Homo sapiens: one gene and its partner. The protein of the gene in region 1 interacts with the protein of each later gene in a pairwise test. Each region holds a gene or a part of one and is shown in the gene's direction. Other genes may lie near its edges. The genes, in order: CSF1R and CTDSP2.

Region 1 (3,810 bases):
AGCACCACTTGAGAATCTCCTAGATACATGTTTATTTGCGTTTAATGCCTCTCTCAGCCACTAGAATGCAAACTCCATGGAGGGGCAGGGACTTTGTCCTGTTCAACTCTGAATCAGCGGTGCCTGACACAAATAGATGTTCAAGAAAGTATGTGGATGGGCTACTATTATTCAGCCTTAAAAAGGAAGGGAATTCTGACCTGTGCTGCAGCATGAATGAACCTTGAAGACATTATGCTGGGTGAAATAAGGCAATCTCAATAGACACATGCTGTGTGAGTCCACTGAGGTGCAGTGCCTAGAGCAGTGCAATTCACAGAGACAGCAGAATCATGGTTGCCAGGGGCTGGAGGAGGGAAAGGGGAGTTGCTTTTTAACAGGAACAGAATTTCAGTTTTGCAAGATGAAAAGAGCTCTGGAAACTGGTTGCACAAGGTAGAATGTAATTTACTTAATACTACTGAACCATACACTTAAAAATGGTTGAAATGGTAAATTTCATGTATGTTTTATCACAATTAAAATATATATATATATTTGGATGGGAGGTTGGGTGGGTGGATGGATGGGTAGATGGATGGACAGATGAACGGATGGATAAGATCTCAAGTTCCACCCTCCCTCCTGGCTCAGGAATTACCAGATTATCAGAGATATCAGGGCCCTCAGAGGTTGTCTTGTCCAAGGTCTTCAATACACAAATAGTGAAACAGGCTTGGAGAAGGGAAGGTCACACAACAAGGCAGAGTCAAGCAGGAACATGCTCTCAGTGCTATGTTCATGAGACGACCTCTCTCAGCCCAGAGCAGGCCTTGCCCTGCCTTCTCCCACTGGGCGCCTTGGGACTGCCCACACCCCTGCTCTTGGGGGTCAGAAACAAGGTCCAGGAACTGCCTGCCAGCCCCGACTGCCACGTGCTCCCTTCCTCTTCTGCAGAAGCCCAAGTACCAGGTCCGCTGGAAGATCATCGAGAGCTATGAGGGCAACAGTTATACTTTCATCGACCCCACGCAGCTGCCTTACAACGAGAAGTGGGAGTTCCCCCGGAACAACCTGCAGTTTGGTGAGATGGCAGCTCATCACTCCACAGCTTCCTATCACAGGGCCTGTGGGGGTTGCAGGGAGCCCATGGGCCCTTGGACAGAGGCCCTTTGGTGCCCAGGGACTTAAGGGACCTGTGTGCGTGGCAGGTAAGACCCTCGGAGCTGGAGCCTTTGGGAAGGTGGTGGAGGCCACGGCCTTTGGTCTGGGCAAGGAGGATGCTGTCCTGAAGGTGGCTGTGAAGATGCTGAAGTGTGAGTGAGGGGAGGGGATGAGGGAAGGGATGGGGGGTGGTAGATGCTGGGGGTGGGCTGGCCCTGGTGTCACAAGAGGCATCACACACATTTCAACCTGTTGAAGCCTGGGGGACAGAGCTCAGGGGTGAGGACTTGGGTTTTCTTGTGAGCTCCAGGCACCCTCTGACTCCCGGCTCCAAGAAGGTCTAGGTCACCCTTTAGTTGTGAAGGGGCTCCTGACTGAGCTCCAAAAAGTCTGGGGGTGCAGAAAGGCCACCTATGGCCATGGCCTGGCCACAGTTTGGCTTCCTGTCACCTGAAGACCAGCTCAGTGACAGGCTCATCCCTCCTCTCTCTCTCTCTGCCATCTGTGTGTCTGCATTTTTCCTTCTCCTTCTTTTGGCTTCTGGTCACTCCGGGTCTTGGGGTATGCCCTGCTTTCTCCCCTGGGTCTCTGCATTTGGTCCCCATGTATCTGTGTGGTGCTCTCTGTCCTGCCCTCTCCCTGTCTTTGGGACTGTGGTTCTTCCTCCCAGCCACGGCCCATGCTGATGAGAAGGAGGCCCTCATGTCCGAGCTGAAGATCATGAGCCACCTGGGCCAGCACGAGAACATCGTCAACCTTCTGGGAGCCTGTACCCATGGAGGTAAGGGCCTTGGGGTTCCTGGGGCCAAGGTCTTGGGGCCTCTGGGGAATCTCAGGGCCCCAGGGCTACCTTGTTCCGTCTTCTCCTTCTCAGGATCCTACTGCTCCAAGTGTCAGGGGGATCCCGGTCACAGCATCCCTTAAACTCCTGGGCCCATCTCCTGGAATAGTCAGGAGCTGCACGGGCAGCTTGAGGTATAAAGAGAGACTGATAGGGAGCATCGGAGCCCTTGGAGGAGGAGATGAATGTGCAAGCTCCTAGGCCCTGCTTCCAGGGAGCCGGATCCTCTGGGTCTGGAGTGAAGCCCCCCGCCTACCTCTTATGAAGCTTCCATTCAAGGATGCTTGGACACTCTCCCCAGGGCCCCCAAAGGTGCCCCGGGCTTTGCTGGGACTCCAAGTGCCCCACATCCTCTTCACTGATAGCAGCTCTGACCTACAGTGAGCCGCCATAGCTTTCCTTTGAAGAAATAATTCTTGGGCTACATTTTTTTTAAGGTTGTCTTTTTTTTTTCATTTTTTGTTTTTTTTTTCTTGAGACGGAGCCTCACTCTGTCACCCAGGCTGGAGTGCAGTGGTGCGATCTCGGCTCACTGCAACCTCTGCCTCCCAGGTTCAAGCAATTCTCCTGCCTCAACCTCCTGAGTAGTTGGAACTACAGGCACATGCCACCATGCCCGGCTGATTTTTTTGTATTTTTGTAGAGATGGGGTTTCACCATGTTAGCCAGGATGGTCTCGATCTCCTGACCTCGTGATCCACCCACCTTGGCCTCCCAAAGTGCTGAGATTACAGGCATGAGCCACCGTGCCCCGCCAAAGCCATCTGTTTTAAACAAATGGAACTACTGAGGCACAAGGAAACTTGCTCACAGAGCCGAGGTTAGAACTCAGCTATGCTGAGTCCAAGTCCAGTGGCCTCACTGCCCCCAGTCTCATGCTCCTGTTCATGGAGGGGAGCACTCAGCACCTCCCTCACCCCACACCCTTGGCTGCTCTAGGCCCTGTACTGGTCATCACGGAGTACTGTTGCTATGGCGACCTGCTCAACTTTCTGCGAAGGAAGGCTGAGGCCATGCTGGGACCCAGCCTGAGCCCCGGCCAGGACCCCGAGGGAGGCGTCGACTATAAGAACATCCACCTCGAGAAGAAATATGTCCGCAGGTAGCCCCTGGCAAAGGACAAGAAAAAGGCCAGGTCTGGGAGGCAGGATCCGAGTCTGTCTTCAAAGCCAGCTCAGGGTTGGATGGCTCATGAATGGGTGGCTATGCAGCCCTCACCTGCCACCTGTGTCATGGGAAGTAGCCACCACAGGTTTTATGGCCATCTCTTGTTTCTCTACTCCTTTTCCCCTTCATTCAACAAATATTTGAACACCTACCGTGTTCTGGGAGTGTGGAGGGCAAAGATGGGCAGCTCATAATCTGGTGGAGATATGCATCAATGAAATCACCACCCAGTGTGTGTAAAAGATCAACCAAGATCTGTGCCTGGAGCCCTAGTAAGAGATGGGCAGATGTGGCCGGGTGCAGTGGCTCATGCCTGTAATCCCAGCACTTTGGGAGGCTGAGGCGGGCAGATCACCTGAGGATGGGAGTTCGAGACCAGCCTTACCAACAAGGTGAAACCCCGTCTCTATTAAATATACAAAATTAGCCGGGCGTGGTGGCGCATGCCTATAATCCCAGCTACTCGGGAGGCTGAGGCGGGAGAATTGCTTGAACCCAGGAGGCAGAGGTTGCTGTGAGCTGAGATCACACCATTGCACTCCAGCCTGGGCAACAAGAATGAAACTCCGTCTCAAAAAAAAAGAGAGATGGCTCTGTTGTCCTGTTGCTGTGATTCCTGGAAGCCATCCAGAACAGAGCCATCCAACAGACAGAGCCAC
Region 2 (3,810 bases), on another chromosome or scaffold:
CCTGTGACACTTGCTAAAAATACAGACCCCCCACCTGGGATCTGCTGAATCAGCGCATGGGCAGGTGGGTCAGGCATGCATGTGTTCCAAATGCTCCTTGTGGCTCTGACAGGTGCCCCTGGAGAAGAGCCAGGTAGGCACAGCAGTGGCCCCAACTGCCTGTTTTGCCCCGAGCAGGAAAATTCCTCTTGGTGGTCCCGTTTTACTGTATGTTAAAGATCTGTGGCTCTTCAAGGGGAGTCCTAAAGTTTTCAGAGTAAATGGACAGAGTAATGATCCATCCTTGTTTACCCAGTAATGGTTACAGCCAATATTTATAGAGTACTTGCCATAGGCAAGGTACTATTCCTAGCATTTTATATCTCGTATCTCACTTAGTTCTCCTGACAACTTTTCCTTTCCAATAAGAGGAATTAACCTCACTTTACAGATAAGGAAAACTTTCACAGGGAGAGGGAAGGACTTTGCCCAAGGGTACATGGCTAGTGTCAGCCAGACATTTGCATTGTCTGGCATTTCACTTTTTTTTTTGAGATGGAGTCTTGCTCTGTCGCCCAGGCTGGAGTGCAGTGGCGCGATCTCGATCTCAGCTCACTGCAAGCTCCACCTCCTGGGTCTATGCCATTCTCCTGGCTCAGCCTCCTGAGTAGCTGGGACTACAGGCGCCCGCCACCACGCCCGGCTAATTTTTTGTATTTTTAGTAGAGACGCGGTTTCACTGTGTTAGCCAGGATGGTCTTGATCTCCTGACCTCATGATCCGCCCGCCTTGGCCTCCCAAAGTGCTGGGATTACAGGCTTGAGCCACCGTGCCCGGCCTAACATTTCACCTTTTAGAGTGCTTTTGAGTTCATGATTCAGGTGCATGCTTCAGGTGAAGCCACCTTTTAAGGGACCATGCAGGGGAAACCTTTCCAGATTGGCTTATGAGGAAACTGAACCCCAGAGAATTGTGCCCTAGCAAGGCCACGGAACTGTTGAAAAGCTGAACTGGAGCAAGAGCTGGGTTTCCTGACTTCTAGATCAGTACTTTCTCAAGTGGACTCACCTATACGGCTTGGCTGGTCATAGGTGAAGCTGAGGGGTGTGGGGGGAGCAGCAGAATGTCCCTGGAGATGGGTGCCTCCCTGGCAGACTCCTTCCATTCCTTCTGCAGAGGCCAGCCATATGAAGGAGGAACTGGTTGGCCAGCCTCAATGAGTGTGTATGTGTGTGTGCGACTGATTCGTTTTTGTGGAGTCCCGGAAAACATCATTTCCGGTTTGGCCCTGTTACTACCTCTGAAATGAGTTAGAAGAAATCTCTATGGTCCCTTTAATGTGAACATTTTGAGATGGAGACTGAGGTAAGAGTATGAAAGTACTTTGCACTTAATGAGTAGCAGTTGACACTTACAAAGCTTTTGTTAGGACCAGGACACTCCCTGAGCTCCCTGCAATTCTGACACTGAGAAATAGGTAGTCTTCCCATTTTGCAGATGAAGAAACTGAGGCCCATGGCTGCATACCTTACACATGGCAGAGCCTAGATTCGAACTCAAGTCTGGGTGCCTTGTGTCACCACTGTATTTTTCCCTGGTCAGAACAGATACCCTTGCTTTGTCCTGTGTCCTCACTGCTTTCTCCAGCTCACGTTTGTATCAACCTAAAGCAGGCCTACATACCTGGAAGGGAAAGAAGCAGTGGATTCTTCCTAGGCTTCAACTATATCTAAGCATTCCAGGAGTCAAGGGCACAGCACTAAGGCAGGAACTTGAAACACTCACTGAGAGGTTGTCTGTGTGTAGCCCCTCCCACAGGGGCTTGTTATACACCTCCTTAGGGGGAAGGAGGGGTAACTCCAGGTAGGCAAGTGTGGTTTCCAATCCCTCACAATGATACCTTTGCTCTGGCTGGTGCTACATAGGGCAGGGTCTCCTGCTGAGGCAGGGGCAGGATCCAGTCCTTTGAGTTTTCTTGGATGGCATCTCAGGCTTGTCCCTGCTGCCCTGTGGGCTATTAGATCACTTCCTGACATCCCTCAAGAGTCCTCTGGAGTGGGGCTTGCAGGGCTGAGCCTGCAGCTGACTTGTCTATGAGGAAACGCCTCCTCTGTCTCTGGTCCAGGATCTGCTACTTATGGAGGCCCACCCCAACCCAGCACGTTTTTAAAGTACGTTGGAGCTGCCCAGGAGGGTGTTTTGGCAATACCTCCTTTAGAGGCTGATTCTGAAATCAGCGTGCTTTAGAACTGCCAGAAATCCCCTGCTCCCAAAACTGAGTCCTCTTACCTCTCTAGCTGAGGTCAGAGAACAGATTGCTGAAGGGGCAGAGACAAGAAAGTGTGTGACCTGTGACCCTCGCCCCACAGGTGGCATTAAGGACTCAGGTCTGAAAGAAGAGACAGCCATATAGGGAGCTCTCCTGCCCAGGGAAAGGGAACTAATGGAGACACTGGCTTAGGTAGAGCTGCCCCAGTTGCTGGTGCAGAGAGGGCACCAGCATACAACATGCTGGTATGGGCCAAACAGCATGGCTAAAACTGCTTTTTAATTTTTTAAATTTTATTTATTTATTTATTTATTTTGAGACAGAGTTTTGCTCTGTCCCCCAGGCTGGAGTGCAATGGTGTGATCTCGGCTCACTGCAACCTCCACCTCTTGGATTCAAGTGATTCTCGTGCCTCAGCCTCCGGAGTAGCTGGGATTACAGGAGCTCACTACCATACCCTGCTAATTTTTGCATTTTTAGTAAAGATGGGGTTTCACCATATTGGTCATGCTGGTCTCGAACTTCTGACCTTAAGTGATCCCCACTGCCTTTGCCCCCCAAAGTGTTAAAACTGCTTTTTTCAAAAAATGCCCATGCAGTTAGATACACAGCTACTTTTTGGAACTTCGGGAGCCGGTGCTAAGCTGGGTCCGGCCCTGCCTTGCTTGTTAGCTGTAGAGAACAGTGTCAGTGGCCAGGCATGAAAGCAGTACACCCTCCCCATTGTTTGCAGTCTTTTGTGTGTGGGGGCTGTCTAGGCATCTCACCCTCTTTTGTTCCCTGCCGACTCACCTGCTGGTCCCAGGAGCTCTTCCGTCCACCTGGCACTTTAGGGCATGTCCATAGCCAAGGAACAGATGCCCCTTGCAGAGGACCTGGGAGGACTTCTCTCCATGGGGGAGTCCCAGTCAAATGTGTCTTGGCTGCAGGGTTCAGGCAGCCGTCCAAGAAGGGCCGGAAATGCTCCAAATACTCTCCTTCCTCCAATAGCTGAGAGGAAGGAGGCCCCTCAGAGGGGCCATTTTATAGTGATAGCCAGGCTAAGGCTAAGTCCTTTGCTGTGGGGGATGGGAGGTGGTGGGGAAGGAAGTACTTCTGGGGATGAACCAAAAAAGAAAGCAACTTTCTACCTGAATGGGCTTGTTAAAATCTGATTGTCTCAGAGGTTACCTTCTGCTGAATCGCAGGCAGATGTGTGAGGAGTTCCTTTGCTGGGACACAAAGCTGTGTTGTTGACAAAAGTGGTATCTGGACCTGACTTTCAGGAGAAGATTAAAAACAGTGTTGCCCTGGTCACTCTGGTCTTCGTTTGTGTGTATGTGTGCACGTGTTCACGTGTTTGTACATGTACACTTTTTTTTTTTAAAGACAAAATCTCACTCTGTCACCCAGGCTGGAGTGCAGTGGTGCAATCACGGCTTACCGCAGCCTCAAACTCCTGGGCTCCGGTGATTCTCCCACTTCAGCCTGCCAAGCTGGGACTGCAGGTGCACCTGGCTAATTTTTTTTTGGTAGAACAGGATTTTGCCATGTTGCTCAGGCTGGTCTTGAACTCCTGAGCT

What was found.
Region 2: the proteins of CSF1R (region 1) and CTDSP2 interact in a two-hybrid assay, tested with the Homo sapiens proteins (one study listed by BioGRID and IntAct).

What each region holds. Positions count from the first base shown.
Region 1 is NC_000005.10:150,058,976-150,062,785, reverse strand, and holds part of CSF1R (macrophage colony-stimulating factor 1 receptor isoform a precursor), read left to right. Parts: intron 1-936; coding exon 937-1,063; intron 1,064-1,190; coding exon 1,191-1,295; intron 1,296-1,813; coding exon 1,814-1,924; intron 1,925-2,923; coding exon 2,924-3,086; intron 3,087-3,810. UniProt on the Homo sapiens protein: Tyrosine-protein kinase that acts as a cell-surface receptor for CSF1 and IL34 and plays an essential role in the regulation of survival, proliferation and differentiation of hematopoietic precursor cells, especially mononuclear phagocytes, such as macrophages and monocytes.
Region 2 is NC_000012.12:57,836,445-57,840,254, reverse strand, and holds part of CTDSP2 (carboxy-terminal domain RNA polymerase II polypeptide A small phosphatase 2), read left to right. Parts: intron 1-3,040; exon of another isoform or gene 3,041-3,164; intron 3,165-3,810. UniProt on the Homo sapiens protein: Preferentially catalyzes the dephosphorylation of 'Ser-5' within the tandem 7 residue repeats in the C-terminal domain (CTD) of the largest RNA polymerase II subunit POLR2A.